Homo sapiens: one gene and its partner. The protein of the gene in region 1 purifies or fractionates together with the protein of each later gene. This does not show direct contact. Each region holds a gene or a part of one and is shown in the gene's direction. Other genes may lie near its edges.

What was found. The genes of interacting proteins can lie anywhere in the genome.
Region 2: the proteins of RAB7B (region 1) and SDHB purify together in Homo sapiens (affinity purification with mass spectrometry; one large-scale study listed by BioGRID and IntAct). This does not show direct contact.

Annotation. Positions count from the first base shown.
Region 1 is NC_000001.11:205,993,120-205,997,352, reverse strand, and holds part of RAB7B (ras-related protein Rab-7b), read left to right. Parts: intron 1-2,895; exon of another isoform or gene 2,896-3,201; 5' UTR 3,202-3,217; coding exon 3,218-3,270; intron 3,271-3,806; coding exon 3,807-3,933; intron 3,934-4,233. UniProt on the Homo sapiens protein: Controls vesicular trafficking from endosomes to the trans-Golgi network (TGN). Acts as a negative regulator of TLR9 signaling and can suppress TLR9-triggered TNFA, IL6, and IFNB production in macrophages by promoting TLR9 lysosomal degradation.
Region 2 is NC_000001.11:17,020,124-17,023,261, reverse strand, and holds part of SDHB (succinate dehydrogenase [ubiquinone] iron-sulfur subunit, mitochondrial isoform 1 precursor), read left to right. Parts: intron 1-531; coding exon 532-654; intron 655-3,138. UniProt on the Homo sapiens protein: Iron-sulfur protein (IP) subunit of the succinate dehydrogenase complex (mitochondrial respiratory chain complex II), responsible for transferring electrons from succinate to ubiquinone (coenzyme Q).

The DNA of each region.
Region 1 (4,233 bases):
ACTTTCCCTGTGCCTCTCCTGCGGTGCTGTGTACTTTCTCTCTGGTGTCATCACTCAGCCACTGTCCTTTCTTCCTTGGTGACTCCGTGTGGTGGGTTCCTATTTGCTCCATCTCTGTGCTGTTCCCAGTGTCTAGTGCAAGGCTTTGCATGTGGTAGGCATGTAGGCATTTGCTGCATGAACGTGTGAACCATCAAGAAGACCCATTTCTCACCATGCCAACCCAGCATTCCTGGGTTAGAGCAGAAGTTCCAGTGCCACCAACTCCAGGTCCTAGGACAAACAGCTCTGAGTAGAGCTTCAAATCGCCTTTGGTCTATGATATGGTTTGGCTGTGTCCCCACCCAAAATCTCATCTTGAATTGTAATCTGAATTGTAATTCCCATGTGTTGGGGAAGAGACCTTGTGGGAGGTGATTAGATCATGGGAGTGGTTTCCCCATGCTGTTCTTATAATAGTGAGTGAGTTCTCAGAAGATCTGATGGTTTTATAAGGGGCTTTTCCTCACTTTGCTCTACACTTCTCTCCCCTGCTGCCATGTAAAGAAGGATGTGTTTACTTCCCCATCCACCCATGACTGTAAGTTTCCTGAGGCCTCCCCAGCCATGCGGAACCAATTAAACCTCTTTCCTTCATAAATTACCCAGTCTCAGGCAGTTCTTTATAGCATGAGAACAGATGAATACAGTCCATGACATGGTTCATGAAGGGGACACTAACAATCCTAAATCTCTGGGGGCTTCCCATTTTAACTTTGTGTCCCAAGCACAGCTCTCATGGCCAATGAGGTCCAGCTCCAGCAGATAAAGCATTTTTCACCAAGAAGGCATCTTGAGTCTTTGGGGCTCAGCTGGCTCATTCTCCAGTTGGAAAGCCAAGACTCAGAGAGGGGAAGTAACTGGCCCAAGGTCACAAAGTGAGAACCAGAACCAAGGCCTCAGGATGTCCTATTTACAGCTTTTTCCAAGTAGCAGGGGAAACACAAGCTGACCAACTTTTGACACCTCATCTGAGCAGAGTCAAGTCAAGGTTTACTCAGCATGCTTAGTGCATCCAAAGACAAAAGAACCAGGAATTGGGGATAGTGCATATGCATATGTGCATATATGGGTGAAACAAAGGGCCAGTTAAGCATGTATCCTACAACAGTTTTGCTTTACCTTGTTAAACACACACACACACACACACACACACACACACACACACACTATACATTTACATTTCTCTTATAGGAACAAGACATATTTATTGTAAAAAAAAAAAAGAATGTATTAAAAAGCATAGAGAAAAAAATTAAAATAATGTAATTTCCTACCAACCAGAATAACTTACATTTTTTAATTGACAGATAAAAATTGTACACACTTACCATGTACAACCTGTTGTTTTGAAATATGCACACATTGTGGAATGGCTAAATTGAGGTAATTAACATCTGCATTACCTCACATGCTTATTTTTTAGTAGTGAGAACACTTAATATAAACTCTATTAGGAATTTTCAAGAATACAATACATTGTTGTTAACTATAGTCACCATGCTGTATAATATATCTCTTGAATTTACTCCTAGCTAACTGAAATTTTTTATCCTCTAACATCTCCCCAACTGCCCACCCAGCCCAGCTCCTGGTAACCACCATTCTATTCTCTACTTCTACGAGTTCAATTTTTTTAGATTCCACATATAAGTGAGATCATATGGTATTTGTCTCTTTGCCTGGGTTATTTCACTTAACATAAGGTCCTCCAGGTTTACCCATGTTGTCATAAATTGTAAGTTTTTTTTTAAAGCTGAACAGTATCCGTTGTGTACATGTACCGATTTTCTTTACCCATTCATCCATTGATGGACACTTAGGTTGATTCCATATCTTGGCTACTGTGAACAAAGCTGCAGTGAACCTGGGAGTGTAGACATCTCTTCAACATACTGATTTCATTTCCTTTGTCTATATATCCTGTAGTGGAATTGCTGGAATTTTTAATATATTTCCTTCCAGGCGTTTTTCTATACAAGTGGGAACTCATTTAAGTGTTGGGTGGTATTGTGTGTACAGTTTACCATCTTCTGTTGTTTTTTTTTAAGTTATTATTATACTTTAAGTTCTAGGGTACATGTGCACAACATGCAGGTTTATTACATATGTACACATGCACCATGTTGTTGTGCTGCACCCATTAACTCATCATTTACATTAGGTATATCTCCTAATGCTATCCCACCCCCTGCCCCCACCCCGTGACAGGCCCCGGTGTGTGATGTTCCCCTTCCTGTGTCCAAGTGTTCTCACTGTTCAATTACGATCTATGAGTGAGAACATGCAGTGTTTGGTTTTTGTTCCTTGCAATAGTTTGCTGAGAATGTACCATCTTCTGTTTTCTATTTAGATCTTAAGGGATCCTAGGATCCTATTTAGATCCTAGGGCATGAGCATTTTCCCATATTATTGTAATATTCTCAAAAACTCCATTTAATGACTGCTTAATAATTCATTGTGTGCTATGATTTAACCACTGCTTTAGTGTTGGATGTTTATAAACAGTACAGTGAAGAACATTCTTGGACAAGAGTCTTTACCCACATTTCGGATAATTTCTTTAGGACAAATTCCTAGAAGTGGAGGGCAGGAACATTTTTAAGGCTCTCAACACTTGCTGCCAATAGCTTTCCAGAAACATGTATGAATTACACCCCCGCCAGCTGCATTAGAGAGGAGCCTTTTGATTCTGCAGTTGCAGCTAGACCTCGGGCTGGGGGAGGGGCACTCTTCCATCCAAAGCCTCTGGGCAGTCGTGACAATGGAACCCTTGTCCTGCCCACCCCCATCTCTTCTTCCTGCATGCCCCTCCATCCCTGGCTCCAGGCTGGGCTGTCTGCGAGGCCTCTGTTTAATCCTGTCCTGCCTTCTTGGCACTCCAGGCTGCCTCCAAGAGCAGGGTTGGTAGAGCTGAGGGATGAGAGATTTGCCTGTCCTGGAGAGTCACCACCCTTCCAGCTTTGGGGAGGCCCCCAGGGAAAGTGAGGGAGAAGATATATGAAGATTGCTGAATTACGTGCCTCCTTCGGAGAACCCCACCCAGTCCCGGGCCCAGGGCAGTAACTTGCCCATTGGAAAGGGGAAAGCAGAGGCCACACTCAGTGACAATGGCCACAAGGAACATTGGCTAGCATGTGGATGACCTCTGTTTCCTTACAGGCTCTGAAGCCCTTCCATGAATCCCCGGAAGAAGGTGGACCTGAAACTCATTATCGTCGGAGCCATTGGGTAAGCCAAGCTCAGCTCTGGGAGTTGGGAAGCAGCCCCTCACCCAAGGACAGTGAGACCTCCTGATGTGTTCCCATCTCCCATAGGTCCCTTTCTGATTCAGGGTGACACCAGCAACTGTATCCCATCCCCAGAAAAGAAGCTTAGTTGGGACAAAGAAGCTGCATGTAAACAGATGGTTTCCAGTCCTAGATCTGCAGTGACTCTGCAGTAACCAGCTGTGTGAATTAGGCAAGCCATTTAGCATCTATCTGTCCTCCCATGTCCTACACACACAGAAAAAACCTGACCACCACTGTGAGATATTCCACCGTCTCCAGACTACTCTGCTCACTTTGATTGGCTTCTACTTCTAGAAACCATTTCCTACTCCCTTGCTATTCAAAGTGTGGTCCATGGACCACAGAAATTTGAAATTCAGAATCTCAGGGAGAGACAGTGGCAAGAGGGGCCTGGGAAGATTCTGAGAATGGTAGGGAAGCATGTGCATGTGTGTTTGCATGTGTGTGTTCACATGTGTCTGGAATTTTCCTCAGTGTGGGAAAGACCTCCCTCCTTCACCAATATGTGCACAAGACGTTTTATGAGGAATACCAGACCACACTGGGGGCCAGCATCCTCTCCAAGATTATCATATTGGGTGACACAACTTTGAAGTTACAGGTGAGCAGCCCTCCTTTTCCCTCTTCAACATACATACACTGAAAATCCCCCCCAAGCCCGGACAGCCACTCATGTAGCAATGTGAACCAGAGCTAGAATGGTCTAGAGCAGAGATGAGCAAACTTCAGCTCATGGGCCAAATCTGATCCACCTCCTATTTTTGTAAATAAGACTTCACTGGGGCACAGCCATAACCATTGGTTAGCTTATCAAGTTATGCAGTACAATGGCAGAGTTGAGTAATAATTGGCATATAGAGACAGAATGACCTGCAAAGCCTAAAATATTTACTATCTGTTA
Region 2 (3,138 bases), about 190 Mb from region 1:
CACTGCTAGAGCAGGCCTATGGTCATGTGATTAACTCGTTTCAGCCTGCTGATCTCAGGCTGCTGAGAGCGCTGTGTAAGTTCAAAGAATCATTAAGTGGGACAAATACTATCTGTAGACAGGTCTGTTAAATCATTCCTTTACTCAGAGACAGCAAGTCCAGCATGGGTAGGTGCCATGAAGACAGATAAGAGTTATATGATACAGTCCCTGCCTTCACCAAATTATAAGCTGGGTAGGAAGCTATTGAGCAATGTGAAATAATTAGGAGATGATACCCAGTGTGTATAATTAAGCACCCGGGTACCAGGTGCAGTATGGATCAAAGGTTTGCAGGGACCATTAATCAAGTGAAGCTACAAGTGTTGGGAACCTTTCCTTGAAAGATGGACAAGAATTAAAGAGTATGGAGATGAGGCATCTAAGCTGAGTGAATTCCCTTTCCTCTGCACTCCCAGAGCTTTGAGTTGAGCCAGGGTGCCGCTCTGGCCTGTTGATTGGCAGCTCAGCTAATCATCCCTGGTTTTCCAGGCCTATCGCTGGATGATTGACTCCAGAGATGACTTCACAGAGGAGCGCCTGGCCAAGCTGCAGGACCCATTCTCTCTATACCGCTGCCACACCATCATGAACTGCACAAGGACCTGTCCTAAGGTACGTGGGGCTGGTGACCCTCAGCTCTGCCTCAGAGCTGACACGCCAGAAGTAGCATGTGCTCACAAAGAGGTGATTGGCAGAGAGCAACCCTAGTCATTTGAGAAGGAAAGGGACCAGCATATGCCTGTCCTTTCAGTGTGAGCCTAGGGGCTAGTTTGGCTCTTAGTTGCAAGGAGTAGACTGACTCGGGCCACCTCAGGAGCAGGCTTTATTTGTAGGCTACACAGGGACATTGTGGGAGTTAAGGATGCACAGGAACCCATGAGCAGGTACCTGCGTTCAACCTTCCCAGGAAACAGAAAGCGAAAGCCGTTGGAACGTGGGCAGCTGTGAGGACTTCATTTCTTCTCCATCTTTCTCGCGATGTCAGCTGCTAATCTGCTCTGCTCTCTAGCAGCCTGTTCTTTCCTTCGGCTCTGTGGAGGTTTTCTCTGACTCAAAGCTCTGGCTTTCGTTCCTCTTCCTGCTCGCATTTGCTGCTGCTTTTGGCTCACTCTGGCCTGGATTTTGCCTCCCAGCACACTTCCAGCTTCAGCCACCCGCCTGCCTCCCAGCACTTCTCAGCACAGTTTCCTGAGAGGGTGTCGCATTGGCCCAGCTCACCTTCTCATGCCTGCACATCAGAGGCCACAGCTGGCTACAGACCGGCTGCCCTTTGGCCAGGTTCTGTCTCAGTCTGTTTTGTGGTACTATCACAGAATTTCAGACTGGGTAATTTTATAAAGAAGTTTATTTGACGCACAGCTCTAGAGGCTGGCGCCAGCATCTAACAAGAACCTTCGTGCTGTATTACCCCATGGCAAAAGGCAGAAGGGCAAGAGAAAGGGAGCCCAAGCTCAGCCTTTTTTTTTTTTGGAGACAGAGTTTCGCTCTTGTTGCCCAGGCTGGAGTGCAATGGCACGATCGATCTCAGCTCACCACAACCTCCGCCTCCCAGGTTCAAGTGATTCTCCTGCATTCGCCTCCCGAGTAGCTGGGATTACAGGCAGGCACCACTCATGCCTGGCTAATTTTGTATTTTTAGTAGAGATAGGGTTTCTCTATGTTGGTCAGGCTGGTCTCGAACTCCCGACCTCAGGTGATCCACCCACCTTGGCCTCCCAAAGTGCTGGGATTACAGGCGTGAGCCACCGCGACCGGCCCCTCTCATCTGTTTTTTTTAAAAGACAGGGTCTCACTGTGTTGCCCAGGCTGGGGTGCAGTGGCGCAATCATAGCTCACTGCAGCCTGGAACTGCTGGCCTTAAGTGATCCTCCTACCTCCTGAGTAGCTGGGACTACAGGCACACACCACCACACCTGACTAATCCAAACTCATCCTTTTATCAGGAACTTACTCCTATGATAATGGCAATCCATTTGTGAGGGCAGAGCCTTCATAATCTAATCACTTCTTAAAGGTCCCACCTCTCAATACTGTTGCATTGGGGATTAGGTTTTCAACACATGAGCTTTTGGGGACACATTCAAACCATAGCAGGTGTCAGCCCTGGTCCAGTCAGCCTTGCCCAGTGGGCAGGGAAGGGCTAGGGCTGTGTGGTTCAGAACACGGCTGCCCTCCGAGCAAAGACTGTGGGTGATTTCACTCAAAAGTTGCAGTGAGTCAGTGGGCGGCAAGGTGGAAAACTGTAGGGTGGCCAGTTAGCCGTAAAAAAAGATCACACTGTGTGTTTGAAAACATGAAATCCAAGCTGTAGAATTCACTTATTTTTTGCCTGGAAACCCTCTGTGTTTCCAGTGGCCTCGCTGGGGGAGCCCACAGGCTTCAGCTCCCTATTGCCTGGGCTTCCATCTGGGTCCTGTCCCCAGGACTGTGGTTTACCATGATTGTGCCTGTGAATAGCTACTGACCTCTGAGGCAAGTTATGCTATAAAAGTGCTTGGAACAGTGCCTGGCACATAGTAAGCACCCAATAAATGTCACCTTATGTTATTTTTTAAAAAAACATGAGTACTGGGCTTGTTTGAGACAGAGATAGCATCTTCAGTGGTGGGGCCTGGCTGTGTGTTTCTTCAGAAGCTCTGCGAGTGACTCTAAGGTGCATTCCTGGTCACAAACCTGTGCATGGAGGGGATGGGTGCAGCAGACAACTGAGACAGCCAAGAACAGGTTCTCTGTGCCTTGCCCTCCCTTCTGTAAAACAGGGCTGGAAGTTGGGACTGAGACATAGACATAGGCCGATCATGAAACTGGAAGGGACTTGAAAACCATCAAGTTTAATCCCCTTATACAGATGGGGAAATTGAGCCCCAGGTGGGGAGGGGAGTGACTCGCCCCAGATCACTGTCAGGTCAGTGGGAAGGTAGGACTAGAGTTAGGCCGTCTGCCTCCCCATCCAGTGCTCTTTCTTCCTGCATGGATTGGGTATGTACCAACCTTCTAAGTCTAAACACCCTTACTGACCCTGTGGGGACCGGAAATACACAGGTAGATCCAGATTCAGAAGGATATACAGTGAAAATTCTCCCTCCCACTCCACCC